Linked DNA regions of Homo sapiens: region 1 is linked to region 2. The links come from fine-mapping of genetic effects on gene expression. A gene starts in region 2. The other region holds a variant in brackets. All regions are shown on one strand. Distances are between the middles of the regions.

Region 1 (4,529 bases), 62 kb after region 2:
GCCTGTAATCCCAGCTACTCAGGAGGCTGAGGCAGGAGAATCACTCGAATCCAGGAGGTGGAGACTGCAGTGAGCCGAGGGGTTCAAACAATTCTCCTGTCTCAGCCTCCTGAGTAGCTGGGACTGCAGGCGCATGCCACCACATCTGGTTAATTTTTGTATTTTTAGTAGAGGTGGAGTTTCACCATATTGATCAGGCTGGTCTTGAACTCCTGACCTCAGGTGATCCACCTGTCTTGGCCTCCCAAAGTGCTGGGATTACAGGCGTGAGATACCATACTCGGCCTATGATTATTTTTGAGACAGGGTCATGCACTGTCATCCAGGCTGGAGTGCAGTGGTGCCATGAGCATGGCTCACGGCAGCCTTGAACTCCTGGGCTCAAATGAATTGACAGGAGTTGATAATCTGGAGCTCCTTGGGGACCCATTGTGATCATTTGGGTTGGAGAATGTAGCTAATGCAACCAGCTGACACGGAGATACCCTGATAGTGAATGCTGCAAGAGAGGCGCCTCTCATGTGTTGAAGGAGTGTAAACCAAAGGGGCGAACTAGGACCAATGGAGATGCCTCTGATAACGATTTGAGGCACATCTCCTGGTGGCTCTTTCCAGCTGTTACACAGTGTTCTGAGGAATCACATGAATGAACACAAATTTATTCTTATTAACTCAGAACTAGATAAAAGGGAAACTGGATGGTTCTCAAGGCACAAAAATAGGTCCACAATTTCTTATTCAAAACCCTAAGGGATCCCGCAATCTTACTTTTGGGTATTTATCCAAAGGAAAGTAAGTCAGAATACCAAATCAATACCTTGACCTCTGTGTTTATTGCATCACTGTTACAATGGCCAAGATATGGAATCAACCTAAGTGTCCATCAACAGATGAATGGATAAAGAAAATGTGGCATCTATATATGATGGAATACTATACAGCCATAAAGAAGGATGAATCTTGTCATTCGTGACAACATCGCTGGAACTGGAGGTCATTATGTAAAGTGAAATAAGTCAGGCACAGAAAGGCAAATACTGCATGTTCTTACTCACATGTGGGAGCTAAAAAGATGAGCTCCTAGCAGCAGAGAATAGAATTGTGATTATTAGAGGATGGGAAGGGTAGTAGGGAGGGAGGACAGGGAGAGGTTGGTTAACGGATACAAAGTTAAGCTAGATAAGAAGATGAAGTTCTAGTGATGTGTGGCACTGTAGAGTGAATGTAGTTAACAATAATTTAGGCTGGGTGCAGTGGCTCACATCTGTAATCCCAGCACTTTGGGAGGCTGAGGCGGGCGGATTACCTGAGGTCACGAGTTCGAGACCAGCCTGGCCAACATGATGAAACCCCATTTCTACTAAAAATACAAAAATTAGCTGGGCATGGTGACACATGCCTGTAATCCCAGCTACTTGGGAGGCTGAGGCAGGAGAATTGCTTGAGCCCAGGAGGTGGAGGTTGCAGTGAGCTGGTATCATACCACTGCACTCCAGCGTGGCCAACAGAGCTAGACTCTGTCTCAAAAAAATAAAAAATGAATAAAAAATAATGATACAAAAGAATTTAGTGTATATTTGCAAAAAGCTAGAAAAGAGGACTCCGAATTTTCCCAACACAAAGAAATGATGAATGTTTGAGGTGATGAATATACTAATTATTCTGATTTCATCATCACACATTGTATACATGTATCAAAATATATTTTGTACTCCATACATATGTACAATTATTGCATGTCAACCAAAGTTAAAAGAAAAAAAATCTTTTAGGGTCAGATGTGTTTTGGAATTAAATGTTTCCTTTGAGAAAAGTACCTATCAGCCCCATGGGCCGCAGACAGCTAGCTCTCCATAGTCAAGCACACTGATATCTCTGCAGCAGAACTTAGGAATGTTTGCTCAGTGCGATAAAGACCATGAGCAGCCTCCTGTTGGTTTGAGTCAGGTTTCACTACTATTAAATGAGCTCAGGTCAGCCAAACCAATTGTCAGAAACTTTGGGGTTTGGGAATTGTGGAAATAGACTGTAGACCTGTACAGCCTGACAAACTGTCCTTCCCCACATCAATTTGCCCACATCTCTGATCTCAGAGAGCTTCCCACCTGAGGCCGATCAGAGTCACAGAGCAAAGAAATGAACCCACCTTGAGGAATTGAGATGTGAAATTCATGTTTAACAATGCAATGCCAGGAGGGAAACCTCTACAGCCCTGAGCAAGAGGCAGGGTTTCTGCCATGGGGCTTTCTTGGTTGCCTCGTCCTGTGCCATCTGGATTTCAACTCTTGATGTGCTAAGAATGCCATGATTCAAAGAGCCTATGAGCCAGGGCTGGGACTTACCTGGAGCTGCTGTTCCGTAGCCATAGCCCTGGTAAGCAATGACAAAGGGCTCATTCA[G/A]CGTGATCCAAAACTTCACCTTGTCTCCCAGCCTCTGGAAGAGCACATCTGCATACTCCTTAAACCGCTGCACGATGGTCTCATTCTCCCAGCCTCCTACATCTTGGAGCGTCTGTGGTAGGTCCCAGTGGTAAATGGTCACCTGGGAAGAAGCCAGATCAGCTGTTGCATCAGTCATGCTTTCCATGGGAAGCCCTAGGTTAGATGTGCCAGCATCAACGTCTGCTGCAAATCCTGAGAGTGACTTATGAGACAAAAAGGCTCAAAGATTTTTTTCTTTTTCTTTTGGGAAAAGGGTAAATTGCTTTCAGGGAGAACTAGATGGCTGAGGTCAAGGTTGGGAAGGAAACTCTTTTATGCTTTTCAAATTCTGCATCATATGAATTCACTGACAATTAAAAAGTTAAATTTGAGGTCGAGCACGGTGGCTCATACCTATAATCTCAGCACTTTGGGAGGCCGAGGCGGGTGGATCACTTGAGGCCAGGAGTTTGAGACCAGCCTGGCCAACACAGTGAAACCCCGTCTCTACTAAAAATACAAAAATTAGCTGGGCATGGTGATGCGTGCCTATAAGCCCAGCTACTCTGGAGGCTGAGAAACGAGATCCGCCACTGCACTCCAGCCTGGGTGACAGAGCGAGACTACGTCTCAAAAACAACAATAACAACAAAAGCTAAATTTGAAACCAGCATTTTGTTTACATGATAAATGTGCTCCCCCAGCCCTGCTGGTTCCTGCATGTGGACTTTCCCAAGGCCTTGCCAGGACCCACCATACCTGGGGCTGGATGCTGGCGGCCAGCAGTGTATCGATGAGCCTCACGTAGTAGTTCAGGCCCGCTTCATTGATGTACCTGGTGGTTCCATCAGGGAGGATGCGAGACCAGGAGATGGAAAAACGGTAGTGGGACACGCCCAGGTTCTGCAGGGTGACCAGATCCTCAGCAATCTTGTGATAACTGTCACAGGCCACGTCTCCAATGGCATCGTTCTCAACCCTCAGTGGTGTGTGAGAAAACGTGTCCCAAATGCTGAGTCCTTTGCCATCTGCTCTCCACGCACCTTCAATCTCAAGATGACAAGACATGGTCTTATTAAGTCATTCAGTCAAGCACTCACAGCCTCCTTTCTTTCACTGGGTGAGTCTCAAGTCAGGACGTTTACTCTTTTGTGATAACGCTTAGCTTAAAACAAGCACATTGGTCCATGTGTGGTGGCTCACGCCGGCAACCCCAGCGCTATGGGAGGATCGCTTGAGCCCAGGAGTTCAAAACCAGCCTGGGCAACATGGCAAAACCCCATCTCTATAAAAAAAATCAAAAAAATTAGCCAAGTGTGGTTACCTCCTCTGGGAGCCTGCTCTGGCCCCTGCTCAGTCTCGGAACTCCCCTGGCTTTCTCTACGCATGTGGCAGGCCCACTCTTGCACAGAGACAGACGCAGACAGAAGATGGAAAGCAGGAACCACCACTAACTGCCAGGCAAGTCACTCTTGCCTTTTCCATTTTTCTTGCACAAAATAAAACCATCCTATTTTCTGTATGAGTAAGCCTCATTTTGGCATGAATACAGTAGTGGTGTGATGTTTTTAGGACATCAGAATAAGCTCAGGCCCATGCTGAGAGCCAATGTGAGCAAACTGCCTGCTTGGAAGGATCTAGCTGGGGAATAAAGGGGTCCAACAGGGACTGGTCATAGTCATGGGCTGTAGAACAGTGTTTTGGTCAATGACGGACCTGATATATGATGGTGGTCCCATAAGATTATAATGGAGCTGAAACATTCCTATTGCCTAGTGCTTTGCAGCCATCATAACGTTGTAGAGCACTGCATTATTCATGCTTGTGGCAGTGCTCATGTCAATAAATCTACCGTATGGCCAGCAGTATAAAAGTATAGCACATGCAGGCCGGGTGCTGTGGCTCAGACCTGTAATTCCAGCACTTTGGGAGGCTGAGGGAGGAGGATCACTTGAGGCCAGGAGTTCAGACTAGCCCTAGCAACATAGCAAGACCCCCATCTCTACAAAAAAATTAAAAATAAAAAATTCATTGGGTGTGGTGGCATATGCATGTAATCCCAGCTAATGGGGAGGCTGAGTGATCCTCCTGCCTCAGCCTCCCGAGTAG
Region 2 (4,000 bases):
GAGTAGCTGGGATTACAGGCATGTGCAATCACGCCCAGCTAATTTTTGTATTTTTAGTAGAGATGGGGTTTCACCACGTTGGTCAGGCTGGTCTTGAACTGCTGACCTCATGATCTGCCCGCCTCGGCCTCCCAAAGTGCTGGGATTACAGGCATGAGCCATTGTGCCTGGCCAACTCTTCTGTTTAAAATTTTTCAATGGCTCCCTGTAATCCTTAGAAAAATGTCTTAAAATTTTTAACATGATTTTCAAGACTCTGTATCATCTGATCCTTGCCTAGCTTTCCAGCCTCACTTGTACCACACTCCTCTTTCTATGTTATAGCCACACTGGGCATTTTTTAGTTCTGCAAGTGCACTGTGTTTGCTTGCTTCAGAGCCTCATGTGGAATAGCCTTCTCCTTCACCTACCTAGAGTTCCCCGACACGTCATTTCCTCATGAAGGCCCTTTCTGACTCCACTAGCCCATGTTCGGTCCCATCCTCATACACTTCTGTAGCACTCTGAATTACCCTTCTGTGACATTTATCATCACTCATAATTACTTATTCAATGTCTGTCTTCCTGACTAGACTGTACAGTCACAAAGACAGGGCCTTCTTCTGACTGCCTCACCTCCTTATCAGTGCCAGGCACAATGCCTAGCTCATAAAAGATGAGTGATAAACACTTGACAAATGAATATAAAACTATGAAGGATTCTTATTTAATTCTAAAATTAGAGATAATTAAAGACATAGCTCTATTGGAATAATTTCTAGATTGATCAAATTTCCAGAAGTCCATTAAAGTTGATGTTAAAGGTCAATTCTAATTTTTCTGTAGGATTGTTGTCCTATAGAAGCAACTGTCCCTAATCAGCATTATGTCTCAGTTTATAATAACACTATATACGAGAGGCCTGATTGGGAAAAAAAGTACAAAAATCGGAGTGCAAATAATTAGCTATTTTTAGGGAAAATATCTGTAGGAAAGGTGGTATATTCAGATGTATCACTTCCTTTATCTTGCAAAGATTGTCAGATAGATGTACTGCTGGAGGATAAATTTAATTGATGTAGAATTTAACATAATAGTATATGCAACTTTAAATAAACCATGCAAGCCTTTAGCTAATAGTTATTACAGACCATGTGATTTCATGAAAGTATTAAATATGGATCAGTTTTCATTTAATGGCAGCCAATCACAAAGCGCCACATCTTGATTATAGGACATTCTCCCAGAAAATTGGAAAATAAATCACTATCTAGTCTCTTTTGTATTACCATGGAAAGTAGCTGGAAAAGAAATAATCTATTCTCTGCTTTGTGTTACTTTAAAAAGTAGCTGTGGCAATAGCCTAACGCGTTTTGAAGTTTTGAAATGATCTCTATCCAGTGTCTAGGAAATTGCTGAAGGCCTGCGTTCTACCAATTCCTCCGCTTAGGCACATGGACTACAGGTTATTAAAGAAGGTGACTTGCGGTTTTTATCCCGTTTTTCTGCAAGGTTGGGCTACGTTCAGAAGAAATCAAAGCCTCGGAGTTAATCCCGACAAAGCCCATTTAGTTCCATGCGAGGACTATTTCCTCCACACTGAGAGTCTCAACGAGGCCGAGAATAGCATATGCCAGTTGGAGTGACACTTATTTCTCCCTCTCCCCTTTATAGAATGTGTAGTGGCCCTCACTACTGCCCCCTTTAGCTGTGCCTCAGAACCCACAGTTACATGCTCCACAATATGGAGGCGAATAAGCCTAAGTGGACTACAATTCCCATCATGCCTCACTGCAGGCGCCGCCGACGTGTCTTAGCGGTTAGTCATCCCTCTTACCGCTTTCCTCCACTTCCTGGACTGCGCGACCGGAGGCCTAGCGGGCGCGCGCCCGCACCATCGACTCGCCAACGAGAGAAGGTCCTGGGGCACGGACACCGACGGGTTGCGACTGTGACGTGAGGTGTTCTCGCGCGCGCTAGCGCGCGTCTCCGGGTGCCGCTGACGGGCGTGCGCGCTTGTGCGGAGCCGGAGGTGGGGGCCGAACCAGCCAAGGTTGCGGGGGCCGCAGAGCCGGACGAAGACGGAGGGCGGAGCCGGCTTCGGGACTGCGGAGACTACACACCGAGCGAGCGCCTGGGCCCGAAGGGAGCGATGCTGTGGTTCCAGGGCGCCATTCCGGCCGCCATCGCGACGGCCAAAAGGAGCGGCGCGGTCTTCGTGGTGTTCGTGGCAGGTGAAGGAGGCAGGGGTTCGAGAGGCGGCCGGGACACCCCTCCGGCCTACCTTCATCCTCTTGTATACCTCAGCCGCCGGCCCGCCCTCCCCGAGACGCGGGCTCCTGTCGGCTCGCACAATTGCCACTACTACCCCGCGCCCCAGGGACGGCTGCGACTCCGCCGCCAGATCCCCCAGAGGGGCCATGCAGACCCTCAGCGCCCTGCTCCTTCAGGCCCCGGGCGCCCCCAGCCTTTCCTCAGTGTCTGCGAGGCCCGGGCTGCCGGCCCGTGGCTGTTCAGCGCCTCCCCGGTTCGTTTGAGATACAGTGGGCCTGGCCCCACCGCTGCGTCTCCCGGCAGCCGGGCCGGAGGCACCGTCTGGCCCTGGTCTCCAAAGCGCCCCGAGGCCCGCCGAAATCTCCCCGCTCGGGGCGACGGACGCGGCCAGCAGGCCCCAGCCGCCCAGCCCCGCTCGTCGCCCCGAGCCTCTCCCCTGCGCAGCCAGACCCCCGCGACCCTCTCCCTGACGTCCCTCTCTGTCACCAAGGACCCTCTTTGTGCTGCTTGAACGCCCGTTTCGTTACTGCTGTTTAGATGGAGGTAGGAACGGGCCATTAGGCAAGCAGTTGGGTTGTAATTAGTTGTGGACTGTCGGGAAGAAAGCTGTGTCATCGATAAGCAACAAAGAGAAACCACCTGATGTTCACGGTTACTGGTGTTAGTACGTTCCTGAAACGTAAACTTTTGAGCTGAATAGAGGTTTAATTTTTCTTTATGGCAGTCTTGGTAGGGGATCTAGTGTGAAATAATGTAAGTTTAAAAAAAATCCATTAGTTTCAAAGAAAATAGACGTTCAGTCCTTGGTTTCTTCCCTTTGTTGTCTTCTTAGGCTAAAATCTACACGACTTTGAGAACGTTTATTAACTCATATATTCTCTGTTGCTCTAGGCTATTTTGCTCCATATTCTCCTGTTTTATTACTGAAATCTTGTAGATTTACAGTGAACTCCCTGCCTCTACGGTTCTGCTCATACTCATTACATGGACCAAATCAATGTTTGTGGCTGTTGTTAATTTGAGGTGTATTTCTTCAACTATTTGTGTTTAATAACGGTTTATTCATAATTAACTCGTCTTTTAATAGCTCTATAACTTTATGCACTGCAGTGAAGAACGAATTACTGAAATGTGAATGTCATTTAGCATTAAATTTGGAATTTATAATTGTTTTGTTACGCCAAGTTTTTAGCTCAATGCTGTTTATTAGAAGAGCTTGAATAGTTTAGATTCTGTGATGCTGTCTGGGGGTTATATTATACTTTACATAAATTAATTCTGTAATCCCGTAAGGAAAAAAATGGATTGAAAATGAAAGGAAAAGTAAATGACACTATGCTTATTGTGTACATTAGTAGGTTTTTGACATTTTAAATTGTTTTTCTCCTAATATCTCAGTTGATCCTTGCAGTAAATAGAACAGGTTTAATTATCCCCATTTTATAGATGAGGCACTTAGGTCAGCAGTCATAAAGTGACTTGCACTAGGGCCACAAAAAGGATTTACATGTCTTAACAGTCAAATTTTTTAGTAGCTTCAAAAAAACTGGCTTTTTTGTTTCTTAAGGAAAAAACTGAACAATTTGTAAATTGGTGATTTAAATTGGTATAGAAATCAGAAATTTGGATTATGGTAGTCATGTTTTTGAACAAATGTCCAAACATTCCTAGAAGGCACTCTTGAGGTAAATCAGTTAATTTAAAAAAAGAAACGAGAGATTTTTATTAACAAATATTAATATTTGGA

Direction of the effects. Alleles are on the strand shown, and positions count from the first base shown. SD is a standard deviation of normalised expression in the study named.
In carriers of allele G in region 1, the expression in cerebellar hemisphere of the gene that starts at base 2,057 in region 2 tends to be lower than with A alone (small effect, 0.28 SD a copy in GTEx).

Evidence for each region. PIP is the estimated chance that this variant, and not a neighbour inherited with it, causes the effect. A credible set is the group of variants that fine-mapping cannot tell apart.
Region 1: its variant is the best candidate, but not a certain one, in a credible set for the expression of UBXN4 in cerebellar hemisphere (GTEx, PIP 0.60).

The regions. Positions count from the first base shown.
Region 1 is chr2:135,801,588-135,806,116 of GRCh38, forward strand. It overlaps LCT (lactase), which reads right to left. Exons shown (of 17, transcript NM_002299.4): 10 at 3,180-3,470; 11 at 2,343-2,541. Among named protein-coding and RNA genes, the nearest start is that of LCT-AS1, 16 kb to the right of the region's middle. The variant G/A (reference allele first, on the strand shown) is at 2,400.
Region 2 is chr2:135,739,799-135,743,798 of GRCh38, forward strand. UBXN4 (UBX domain protein 4) reads left to right here and starts at 2,057. Exons shown (of 13, transcript NM_014607.4): 1 at 2,057-2,213. The coding sequence starts at 2,132. LOC107985946 (a long non-coding RNA gene) reads right to left here and starts at 2,846. Exons shown (of 1, transcript NR_163478.1): 1 at 1,031-2,846. RefSeq lists enhancers at 1,675-1,804, 2,135-2,194, 2,523-3,298 and a silencer at 2,595-2,644.